Linked DNA regions of Homo sapiens: region 2 is linked to region 1. The links come from fine-mapping of genetic effects on gene expression. Tissue or cell type: whole blood. Region 1 holds a variant in brackets; the other region holds the start of a gene. All regions are shown on one strand. Distances are between the middles of the regions.

Region 1 (6,397 bases):
CACACATACATATTTTGCAGCTTTAGCCTGCAGAATTTTATATTAGGGAAAGTATTTTATAAGTATACATGTCAGTCATTTGAAAGGGAATTTTTTTTGAGGTATTAATTTATATACAATAAAATGCACAGACCTTCTGTGTTTCATGTGATGATTTTTGGTGTTTGAGTGTATCTCTGTAACCACCACCCAAAACTAGATGTAGAACGTTTTCATAATCCCAGAAAGTTCCATCATGCTCTTTTTTTTTTTTGAGACGGAGTCTCACTCCGTTGCCCAGACTGGAGTGCAATGGCACGATCTTGGCTCACCGCAACCTCTGCCTTCTGGGTTCAAGCGATTCTCCTGCCTCAGCCTCCTGAGTAGCTGGGATTACAGGTGCGCACCACCACACCCAGCGAATTTTTGTATTTTTAGTAGAGACAGGGTTTCATCATGTTGGCCAGGCTGGTCTCGAACTCCTGATGATCGCAGGTGATCCACCCACCTGGCCTCCCAAAGTGCTGGGATTACAGGTGTGAGACACCGCGCCCAGCCCGCAGCTTCAAATATTTTGTTTGTAGTTCTCTTTTATCGTGTAAAATCTGTGGTTTATAATTACCCCCGAGAATGCTCTCAAATTACAGTTTTAGCCTCCATTTGTTTTCTCAAATCTCCTCAATGGTTCACACACTCTAGGGGCTCTGAAAAGAGGTGTGTACTTTTCCTTTTATTTATATCCTCTGCCCATTTTATATTAACATACTTAACCCTTGTTTTTAATATGAGTTACAGATTTTTTTTTTTTTTTCTGGTATGTCATTTGTCTTTTGACCTTGGTGTTTTGTTATGGATTTTTTTTTTTCTCAGACTTATCTTTTATGGCTTCTGCATTTTAAGTCATACTTAGAAAAGGCCTTTCCATGTTCAGATTTTAAGGAATTTACTAGGCCAGGCATGGTAGCTCACACCTATATGTTAACACTTTGGAAGCTGAGGTGGGGGCATCGCTTGAGCTTTGGAGTTCAAGGCTGCAGTGAGCTATGATTGCTGCACTCCAGCCTGATAGACAGAGCGAGACCTGGTCTCCAATCCCCCCAAAAAAGACTTTATAAGGAATTATACTTCAATGTTTATCTTATACTTTCTGGTTTCTTTTTTTTTCATTTAATTCTTTGTTCTGTTTTTCTCAGCGAACTGTATGAGATACAGATCCACTGATCTTTTTCTAGATAGCTCTCCAGTTGTCCCAAAATCTTTTAAGTCTATTTGTAACTCACTGATAGTTGTATGCTACTTTTTCATATATTAAATTCTCATTTGTATATGGGCCCATTTTTCTGGATTTTTGTATTCTGTCTCTTGATTCCTGCTTGTTCGTGATCCATTATTCTCTCTTTTTTCTTTTTTTTTACAGTGTCCCTAGTTAATCTCACTTTTTTCATATGATCTTCAGAATCATGTTGTTTTGTTCCAGAAGCAAAAAAAAAAAAAAAAGCCTTTTAGTAATTTTTATTTGAATCACATTAATTTTATTCATTTATTTATTTTTAATTTATTTTACAATTATTATTTTTTTTGAAATGGAGTCTCACTCTGTCACCCAGACTGGAGCGCAGTGTTGTGATCTCGGCTCACTGCAACCTCTACCTCCCAGATTCAAGTGATTCGCCTGCCTCAGCCTCCTGAGTAGCTGGGACTACAGGCGCGCGCCACCTCGCCTGGCTAATTTTTGTATTTTTAGTAGAGACAGTGTTTCACCATGTTCGTCAGGCTGGTCTCGAACTCTGGACCTCAGGTGATCCAACGCACCTCAGCCTCCCAAAGTGCTGGGATTACAGGCACATTAATTTTATAAATTAACTTAGAATTAACACCTTTGTGATGTTGAGTCTCCTATCTAAGAACATGGTGGCTTTCTATTGGTTTATGTCCACTTTTGTGCTCTTTAGGAGTGTTTTAAAATTTTCCTTGTTTAGATTTTATACCATTTTGATTAGGTTCACTCCTGAGTACTTTATCTTTTTTTGTCTCTGTAATAAATGGAGTGTTTCATTCTGTCTTTTAACTGGTTATATTTGACTTTGCTCTTCTTATCCTTCAATTAGACCCCAAAAGCCATGCTTTTAGAAGATTCTGATTTAAATCTTACTCTGTTTTTTTTTACTCATACATCAGCCAGTGATTTGATAGGATGTTCTTATATATACATTGTGGGTATATTTGGTACCTGCAAATGGTTATGCTAAGTAATAATGAACTTATATATAACCAGGTAGATGAACAAAACATTTGCATTTGTAACTCGAGTAGTTGTAAGTTTTCTGTGGCACATAGTCAGTTGGCAGTGACTGGTTTTTAACTTTCCAATTTACATGGATGACTTGAAGATATATTGTGGGCATGGTAATGACGTAGAGGCAAGGAAACAGTAAAAATAATGCATCATGTAAAAACTAAATTTGTATCAGTGCTTACCTGGCAAATCATTTGAAGAGGTCCTGTTTGAACTTAATTCAATATTAAATATACCTAAAAATAGATTATAGAAGAGTCAAGATATTGGCATCAAGGTTTGTGAAATTAGAATAGTCTGGGTGGTAGAAATTTTTCGGAACACAGTGATGATTACTTTAAATTCATTCCTTGTCTAGATCTTTGAATTATATTTCGGACATTTTATGAGACTTTCCCCAAAGTGATGCATTACTATTCTGATTTTCATTATTTTATTTCAAACAAGTTTTGTTTTGTTTTTTTAAAAAAAGATACAGGTTATAGGAATATAAATATGGGCACTGTCAATATTGTGAACTAAGAGAATATTCTACCTAGGAGATGTAAATGTGTTGTATTAAAATTTTGAAAACTAATTTTGCTGGATATGCTAATTTTCATTATTAACTATACTTGGCAGCTGTTAATGGTTTGGGGGCACTTGGCTAATTTAAATCTTCCTCTTGATTATGTTTGTGATTTCTCATCTGGTGTGTGATGACTGAATTTGTAGTATGGTTTATTTATTGTTAGAGAATATATTCTCTCATGGAATTTGACTAAATGATTCAGGGGATTATTTTTTGCATTTTTCTTGATTTTTTTGTTTTTTGGTTTTTTTTGAAGGAAGTAGAATTTTCCTTTTATCAGGAACTTGTTTTTAAACTTGTGACTGAAATATCATAAATTTGCTTGGCAAATTTATTGTAAAGGGTCTTGGGATTAATAGATTATTTTAAAGCCTCCACACTGATTTTTTTCCTTAGCAGACAAGGTTTTTAAACTAATCATATTTTAAATAACCCAGTATATGCCTCTGAACATGAATCAGTTCTAATTTCTGCACTCTGTTCATTTTAGGAAGTGCAGCCTGTGGTGCATACAATAATTTATTCTCTTGTTTAGTTTTTTAAAACTGGATTTCTGGCTCATCTCTTGTAAGATGTTAAAGTTCTTTTCATGCAAATGGAAGGGATCTTAGGGCAACTTTAAGTTTGAAAAATATAAAATGAATGGAAAGATTTCTACCAATTTATC[T/C]GTTGCAGGGAAGCAAAATACAAACAAGAGTTGGATTATTAATGTTGCTTTGTACCTGGCTAAGCAATTGTCCCATTGCAGTAACGCATTTTCTTCACAATTCAGCCAATGTTCCATTTGTATCCTTTATGTTTTAGTAACGTACATGTAAGTATTTATATCTTTTTTAGTTTTTCTCCTCAATTAGAAGTAGTTCTATGCCCAAAATATTTGAATTCTCCACTATCTTATCTGTGTTGCAACTTTTTAAACTGTTAAAGTTGTTATGATGCTTGTTTAAGTTGTGTGTGTGTGGTTTGTTTTATGCCGGGTTGGAATATATATATGAAATTTCTTTTTTTTTTTTTTGAAATGAAGTCTTGCTCTGTCGCCCAGGCTGGAGTGTAGTGGCGCGATCTCGGCTCACTGCAACTTCCGCCTCCCAGGTTCAAGCAATTCTCCTGCCTCACTCAGCCTCCTGAGTAGCTAGGATTACAGGTGTGCGCAACCACAACCCGGCTAATTTTGTATTTTTAGTAGAGACATGTTGGCCAGGCTGGTCTCAAACTCCTGACCTCAGGTGATCCACCCACCTTGGCCTCCCAAAGTGCTGAGATTACAGGCATGAGCCACCACACCTAGCCTATATATGGAATTTCTTATGGGAACTCTTATGTGAAGTATTAATGTATGTCAAATTCAAATTGCAAAATGTACTAGATATTTTCAATCCTTAGCCTCCTTAACAAAGATTTCAGCTTACAGGACAAATTGCAGAAAATCTTGGAGAAGAAGAGCAGTTGGTCCAAGGCTTATGTGCCCTTTTGTTGGGCATTTCGATTTATTTCAATGATAACTCACTTGAGAGCTACATGAAGTAAGTAAGGGGAAGATGGTTTTCTAATGGCATCAAGAGATAATGATGCTTTTTTTTTTTTTTTGCCAAAGCATTATGTAGACCAAGCTTTTATGTTTTGTTTTGATTTTATTTTTTTTAAAGCATCTCAATATGCTTATCTCCGTAGAGAGAAGCTAAAACAACTGATTGAGAAGAGGATTGGCAAAGAGAATTTCATAGAGAAACTAGGATTTATTAGCAAACATGAGTTGTATTCCAGAGCATCTCAGAAACCCCAGCCAAACTTTCCCAGTCCAGAATACATGATATTTGATCATGAGTTTACGAAGCTGGTAAAAGAACTTGAAGGTAAGACTGAAGATTTATATTGATATTTGATGGAAAGTAATTATATTTATATTGTACATGTATATTCTGGATGCATACAGGTTATATGGTAACTCTAAAGGTATATTTTCTTCCTAGCTCTTGATCTGTAGCCCATTGAAGGACATTTGGCTTTCAGTAGGATTGAAAAGATTATTTCTTACCTATCATGGAGTTAGGTTATATGTTTTTACTAAGTCTTAGTAGTAAAATAGTATTTAAAACATTTAAAACAAATTTTAAATAAGCTTCCTTTTATAGGTGTTATAACTAAGGCTATTTATAAGTCCAGTGAAGAAGATAAAAAAGAAGAAGAGGTGAAAAAAACATTAGAACAGCATGACAATATTGTGACTCACTACAAAAATATGATTCGAGAGCAGGTAAGTACTAATGAACTGTATATACCCTCTGATTACCAATAGGCACTTTCTGCTTTAAGGGAGCCTTTTTTTCTGACATTTCAAATGAAAGAGGATATAGAAAGCAAAACCCATCATTTTTCAAAGCATCTGAGTATTCAACAAACAGAGTGCTTAATATGTGCTAAGCACCATGCAGCTGATTTATTAGATAATGATGAGTGGATAAAGATGAAACTACAATTGCGGAATCATCAGTTGACATTTTCTTTCCAGGATACCAGTGAACTTTCATTACTTGCATTGTGTTGAGTACCCTAAACCTTCATTATATTCCTTCAAAATGTTTTCTTGACTTTTACTCTCATTTAATTTCTTATGATATTTACCTTGATTGGAATTCTAGAAAGTGCTGAAAAATGAGGTTATTAATGTTGTTAAAATTCCAGTGTCATAAAAAAATACAATAGTGGCAGACCCTGTGGGACAGATTCATCCCCTTCCCTCTACTGCTCTCCACACCTGTCTACTAATTGTGCACAGTTTATGGCAGGTGTGGCAAGTAAAAGCATAGATAGAACCCTTTAAATTGACAACTGTTTATATCTTATTTTCTTCCTCACAATCTACATTACTGAGATTAGTTTGTTTTTTGTTTAGACAGAGTCTTGCTCTTGTTTCCCAGGCTGGAGTGCAGTGGCGCAGTCTCGGCTCACTGCAACCTCCGCCTCCCAGGTTCAAGCAATTCTCTTGCCTCAGCCTCGCAAGTAGCTGGGATTATAGGCGTGTGCCACCACGCTGCCTAATTTTTATATTTTTAGTAGAGATGAGGTTTCACCATGTTGGCTGGTGTTGATCTCCTGACCTCGGGTGATCCCTTCCCTTCCCTGCCTCAGCCTTCCGAAATGCTGGGATTATAGGCATAAGCCAGCGCGCCCAGCCTACTGAGATTAAAATTTTAAGAAAGAATGAAAATATTGTGGTATATTTAGCATTCATTCTAAGCTTTTCAGTTTAAAAGTAAATCAATCAATAAATTATAATCTTAGAATGGTAAAATTTGAATCATCAAACTACCTATGGTTATTAGGATTTTTCATCTATATCTGGGTACAAAGATGGAGCCATTTCCAGTTGCTAAAATGTAATAATATCTTTGGAACAGTGAAAAAAACAAATAGTTGTAATGTGATATAGAGTCTATACTTGGGGCTGCAAATACAGTTGATTTGGCAAAAGAAAAGAGTGATTGACACAATTACTCTAATGACTTCCTTAGAAATGTTCATTTTAAATATTCTTACCATTTAAAATGCTA
Region 2 (6,256 bases), 75 kb before region 1:
GATGTATGTGCCACCACGCCGAGCTAATTTTGTATTTTTAGTAGACAACGGGGTTTCTCCATGTTGGTCAGGCTGGTCTGGAACTCCCAACTTCAGGTGATCCGTCCACCTCAGCCTCCCAAAGTGCTGGGATTACAGGCGTGAGCCACCTCGCCCAGCCTCAACTAGTCTTTTTTTTTTTTTTTTGGGACAGGGTCTCACTCCATCCTCCCAGCTGGAATGCAGTGGCACAATCATGGCTCAATGCAGCCTTGATCTCCCAGGCTCCAGCGATCCTCCCACACCCTCCCAAGTAAGTGGGACTACTGGCTGGGAATACAGGCGCATGCCACCATGCTCAGCTAATATTTTATTTTTTGTAGAGACAGGGTTTTGCCACATTGCCCAGGCTGGTGTTGAACTCCTGAGCTTAAATGATCCTCCCACCTTGGCCTCCCAAAGTGCTGGGATTATAGCCATGAGCTACGTCTTTAAAAACCTATATACGATACTGAAGGGGCTTATAACCTACCAAAATAATAAATAAATAAAAACCTATATATGATAGATTTCAAATACAAATGATCATTTATATTTATCCTCCCAAGCAGGCATAGACAACATTCCACCTTACTACCACCCCAACTAAAAAACAATCTTATGCAATTATATTTCGTTGTTTTTGCGAGTTTTCCACTAGAAAGTTAAGTGGGCCACTGAAAAAAGCAATTTGAAAAAATGAATTTCAAACCAATGAATTTTGTTCGTTGATCTATTGTCAGGTTTGGTTTAGAAAAAGATCACTCTTAATTTTGATTATATGTATTTTAATGATTCATAGGACTCTTATCCTGAATGCTTAGATTTATGAAAGCCAGAAGTATTAACAGTGCAAGTCAGGCCGTCACAATTTGTTCAAGTTTTCTCTTCCTTTATTAACTCAGGTAGTTCCTGAGCATCTACCATATTAAAGGAATTATACTAGATGATTAAAGGATGCAAACAGGAATACAACACAGTCCCTGACTTTTCTCCCTCTACAAAATCAGTAGAAGTGGATTAATATGTAACTCTTCCTCTGAAATAAGGAGTCTATTTCATGGTTGTTCTGTAGTGACAATGCCTCGGGGATCCCACCTTCATCACCTTTGCACCCAACTGTCCATCACTCCTGTGCAGGGGATGCTGCTGGGGAAGAAAACAGGTCAAATGCAGGGAAAATTCATAGTAAGCTGTTACTACTACACTCACGAAAGTATAGTAACCTACTTTACTCACTGAAGTACAGTAACCTACTGTACCCACCAAAGTTTAAAACAAAACAGGACATTTGACAAGGCTGGTGCCTTTAAACAACTTTGCTAAAATGTCAAGGCACTCTTTTTAATTATTAAATAAGAGGAGTAATAGACATTTGTGGCCCACTCCGTCTATGAGCCTCATTCCTGATGATGGGGTAGAGTGAGTTTCAGGGACAAGGTGAAGTGAGGTTCAGGGAGGGGTGAGGCTTAGGGGCTTAAGTGAAGTTCTTTGCATGCATTTCTTAGTAACAAAAATGCTGAGTAATTTACTGGTTACTTTTTTTAGGCTGCAACAAAATGCTCCCATGGAAAATGTCTACGGTAAAATGTCAAGTGTATAGCTTTAAAGCAGAGGACAATGCTTAGCGCACAGTATTTTTGGCAGTATGACCCCACCATTCTCCAAGTTGCCCAGGCTTAAAATGTTGGCACTAGGAAACACATAGCTTATGATGTCTTCCCTACAATTTCACTTTACAGATTAAAAAAAGGGAACCTCCTCTTAGTATAATATTCATATATTCTTTCAATAATTTATTCATTTATCCATCAATATCACCTTTTATGAGACAGTGGTAAGCAACAGAGATATAAAATGAATAACATAGTCCTGCCCTTAACAGTTTGGTTTAGCAAGCATTTATTCAATGTACACCATATACAGTATCAATAACTGCAAAGTGCTAACATATAGATGTGTACCTACATTTTAGGGAAAGCTTTCAAGAATGATGTCAGAGTTGAGCCTTAAGGAATTAGCAGGAGTTTGCTTGATGAAGAGAAAGGAAGGGAAGGGCATATCCAGGTCTGAGAAAAATGCCCAGAGTATGTGGGGGAGGCAGGAGCTGAAAAAGTAGGCAGGAGCTAAATCATAACAGGCCTGTATGACAAACTAAGGAGTTTGCACTTTATTCTGGACAGAATGGGGAACAACTGGAGGATTTTAAGAGGAATGACATGAACAGATGTTTTGTTGTTGTTAGTCTCACCCAAGGATGGACTGGAGATTGGACTGGAAGGAAGCCAGGGCTGAATGCAGACAAACTAATTAGGAGGCTGTTGCTGTCATCTCAATGAGAAATGATGAGAAGAACATAATCTATGTCACAGGCACAGAGGATGGAGAGCAGAACACCTATTTGAGAAATATTCTATAAATAGAAATGATAGGACATGACTATTGATTGGACATGTGTGGGTGGAAAGCCAGAGTCTAAGATTCTTCCCAGCTTCCTCTGTCTAGCTTAGGCAATTATTTGGACAGTGGTACTACTGAGCACGGCACGCACACAGTAGAAGCAGCATATTGACTTTTTTTCTTTAAGGGAGGCAGGGAAAGATGACGAGTTCAATTTTAAATGCTGAATCTGAGACCTGTGGGGAATCCAAGGGGAGAGGTGCATGAGTCAGTTAGCTAACTAGACCTGTGCTTTTTAGCCTCAAGAAATTTACAAGACTATTCCAGAAGCATGTGTACTGACAACCTCACTGCCAAAGGAACAGGCATACCAATTAGAGAAAATGACAATTTTTCATGTTAAAAAAAAAAAAACTGAAAACACAGGGGTTGAGAGTTAATAACGAAACATTATGTTACTCGCCAAACTGACACAGCAGAACAATGTATTTCTCTAGTAAGCTAAATGTAGGGTTTGATGGGTTTCCTCCTGACGACACTTGAAAATAGAGGTGTACCTGGTGTTTAGATCTAGGAATTCCTTTCAGCAGGTTTGAAGAGCAAGAGCTGAGAAATGCGCCCTCCAGTGGCAGTGGAATGAGGGGTGTCTAGTAACCCTTTTTACCACCAAACAAAGCCCTGTAAAGAAATGCAATTTACCGGGATCAGAAAGCCACAATGCTGGTACCAGTAAACCGTCAAACCAAGCGAACCCTCTCAGGCGCCAGGAAGCCTTACCTGTCACGTTGGCCAAAGGAAAATTTCACTTTCGACTCAACAAAATAAGACCTCAGATTTGATAGCTTGCAGTAAGTCCCGCTTGGCGACGATTAAACACCCTGCAAGTCGAAACGCGTAGTCTAATCAAATCCTCTCCAGCCTGCAGGGCCGGGCTTCCACCACGTGGGTGGCTGCGGCCAGCAGGATCAATCCGCGAAGGGTGGGGGTAGGAGGCGTGCCCCTGCGGTGGGAGGCGGGGTCTGCGCAGTGGGTGGGGCTTCGGCGGAACCTAGCTAAGAGGTTCCTCTCGCCTCCGCTCCCCTTTTGCCTTCAACCTTCGAGCCGCCACGTAATGCCACGTCCCCGCGCATGCGCATCTTGGCCGCTGCTGGCGGCTGTTTCCGGGCTTAGAGGGCTGGAGTGGCCGCCGAGTTGGAGGCGGTGGTGGCAGCAGTAGGAGTGTGTAGAGTGCGGGATTGGGGCCCAGGCCCTGCGGAGGGCGGGGGAAGTTGTCTTCTTTTTTTTCCGGAGGGGCCGGTAAACCTGGTGGCTGAACGGCAAGATGAATTTCCTCCGCGGGGTAATGGGGGGTCAGAGTGCCGGACCCCAGCACACAGAAGCCGAGACGGTGAGAGGAGCAGCGGGTCTGGGACTTGGGAAGGGGTCCGGGCAGGGACGGGGACGGAGCACTCGGAGACCCGAAGGTCACCTCCAGCGTCCCACCATGGAGGGGGCATCCACATGCCGCCTCCCCCTTTGCCCTCCTTCCGCTCCTGAAATCCCAGAGTTATTCAATCACGCCCCCAGCTCAGTCCCCATTGCTGCCGTTCGGCCGGACTGACGGCGGCCGCGCCCCGCAGCTCTGTAGGCCCTGAAGCTCGGGCTAGGAGAGTGGTCCGCAGGTGGTACCGCACGGGAAGGGACGGATGCGCGGCCGAGCTGGCCCGAACTGCCTCCCACGCCCCTCGGGGCCGTGGGCCCCTCCCTCTTTCTCTTTCGCTCGTCTGCACTGGCCGAGAGGAGCCTGAAGTCCTGCTCCCTCCCTCGCAGTCTGAAACTGGGGCGTTGGGGAAAACTGCGAGAAGGTTTAAAACCCAGCTGTTGGTGAGAGCATTTGGCTAAGAATAAAACGATATTCTTTGAAGGACAAATCCACCTGCTCCTGTCCCATCAACTGGAAGAGCGGTCGTTCTGCCTGGTGTTATTTGTTCAGATCCGGCTTTTCGGGCTCACCCAAATATATATCATTTGGCAAATGCTACCTTGAACGTAGTAGGGATCTTAAGCGCTCAAACTGCTTTGGGGACACGTCCACCGCTTTCTGCCTGAACTCCTAATGACATGATTTGCGGCGTTATTTAAAAAAAAAAAAAAATGGTTAGCCGCTGAAAACATTATTTAATAGTTGCTTAGATTCTAGGTTTAGAATACACTTATTTTGAAGTTTGGTTAGTGTTTAATGGAATCGAGGGTGTATGCCTTTTTGAAATAAACTTTTTATTTGAGAAGAATTTTAGATCTACATAAAAGAGACTAAGTATAACACTTTAATGGCTAACTTTGTTAATGGGATCCTGAGGGATAATATAGTAGCTTTCATTTGTCAGGCTCTTACCTTGTGCTAGGTTCTGTGCTGAGCTCTTTATATTCCACATTATGCTTTAATCGTTAACTACCCTGCAAGATAGGTGAGAGTATTCTCACCTTAAAAGTCAAAAAATGAGACTGAGAGGGGTGAAGTAGGCCGGACGCGGTGGCTCACGCCTCTAATCCCAGCACTTTGGGAGGCTGAGGCCGGCGGATCACCTGAGGTCGGGAGTTCGAGACCAGCCTGACCAACATGGAGAAACCCCGTCTCTACTAAAAATACAGAATTAGCCGGCCGTGGTGGCACATGCCTGTAATCCCAGCCACTCGGAAGGCTGAGGCAGGAGAATCGCTTGAACTCGGGAGGCGGAGGTTACGGTGAGCAGAGATCGTGCCATTGCACTCTAGCCTGGGCAACAAGAGCGAAACTCTGTCTCAAAAAAAAAAAAAAAAAAAAGGGGTGAAGTAACTTGACCAATGTCACACTGCTAATAATAGAGCCAGGATTCAACCAAGAGGTACCTTACTTCAAAGCCTTCACTTTATTGCTCATGCCTGTATTTCAATACTTTTTGGGAACTTTATATAGTATTACTAAAATTAACTGCAGCTAGTCGCAGTGACACAGGCCTATAATCCCAGCTAAGGGGATGCTAAGCCAGGAGGATCGCTTGAGCCCAGGAGTTTGAGACTAGCCTGGGCAGCATGAAGAGACTCCATCTCAAAAAAAAAAAAAATAACTGCGCAGGTCTGGTTAGAATTGTTTAAAGCATAAGATGAAAGCCGGTAAATCTGTTTCTTTCATTTGAAAATCACTTTTCTGTCTCTCACTGTAACACACGCACACATTTGGCTTCACTCATCCATTCCCACTTGGCAACAAGGCAGCCTGAGCTACCCTACTAGAAGATCATGTTCTGTCTAGATTACCAGAGTCATACCATAATCACAGCCCACCACTTTTTTGTCTGATATTTGTGTTTGTGGCACCAGGTTATGAAATATGGTTTATTACAGCTTGCTTTGTGGAGTTAGACTTTGATTTGAATCCTGGCTTTCCACCCCTGATTGGATTGGATATGTAAGAGATAGCTAATACCCTCTAAGTAAAATGAGGAAAATGCCTGCTTTTTAGGATGTAATGAAGATTAAGTGAAATAAGTAGAAAGAGCCTGGCACTTAGTAGATGTATAATGAGAGGTAATTTTTACTATGTGTGGGTTGAACGAAGAATACCCTTTCCTGTTTTTGTTATTATTGGCCTTGTCACAGTGACTTCTGTAGAAAAGATGGAATAGAATTCACAGTGTATAGGATTTTAAAGCTAGAAAGTCCCAGATAGAGCCTCTTCATTTTATAGTCACAGAGCACTAAAGTAGCTTGCACAAGGTTGAAGAGTTGGAGCTAGAACATTTTGATCTTGCCACTGTGGATGGAACAACATAGTTTTTATATCACAATTTCAAAGTGAAACTTGAGTATCACTTGCGTA

What was found. PIP is the estimated chance that this variant, and not a neighbour inherited with it, causes the effect.
Region 2: it holds the start of USO1, and the variant in region 1 is fine-mapped to the expression of USO1 in whole blood (TOPMed, PIP above 0.99).

Annotation. Positions count from the first base shown.
Region 1 is chr4:75,796,101-75,802,497 of GRCh38, forward strand. USO1 (USO1 vesicle transport factor) reads left to right here. Exons shown (of 24, transcript NM_003715.4): 14 at 3,522-3,632; 15 at 4,251-4,369; 16 at 4,518-4,699; 17 at 4,979-5,100. Among named protein-coding and RNA genes, the nearest start is that of USO1, 75 kb to the left of the region's middle. The variant T/C (reference allele first, on the strand shown) is at 3,514.
Region 2 is chr4:75,721,081-75,727,336 of GRCh38, forward strand. It overlaps USO1 (USO1 vesicle transport factor), which reads left to right and starts at 3,497. Exons shown (of 24, transcript NM_003715.4): 1 at 3,497-3,805. The coding sequence starts at 3,740. It also overlaps a transcript of G3BP2 not described here. RefSeq lists enhancers at 2,687-3,607, 3,608-4,527, 3,624-3,703 and silencers at 3,284-3,453, 3,788-3,965.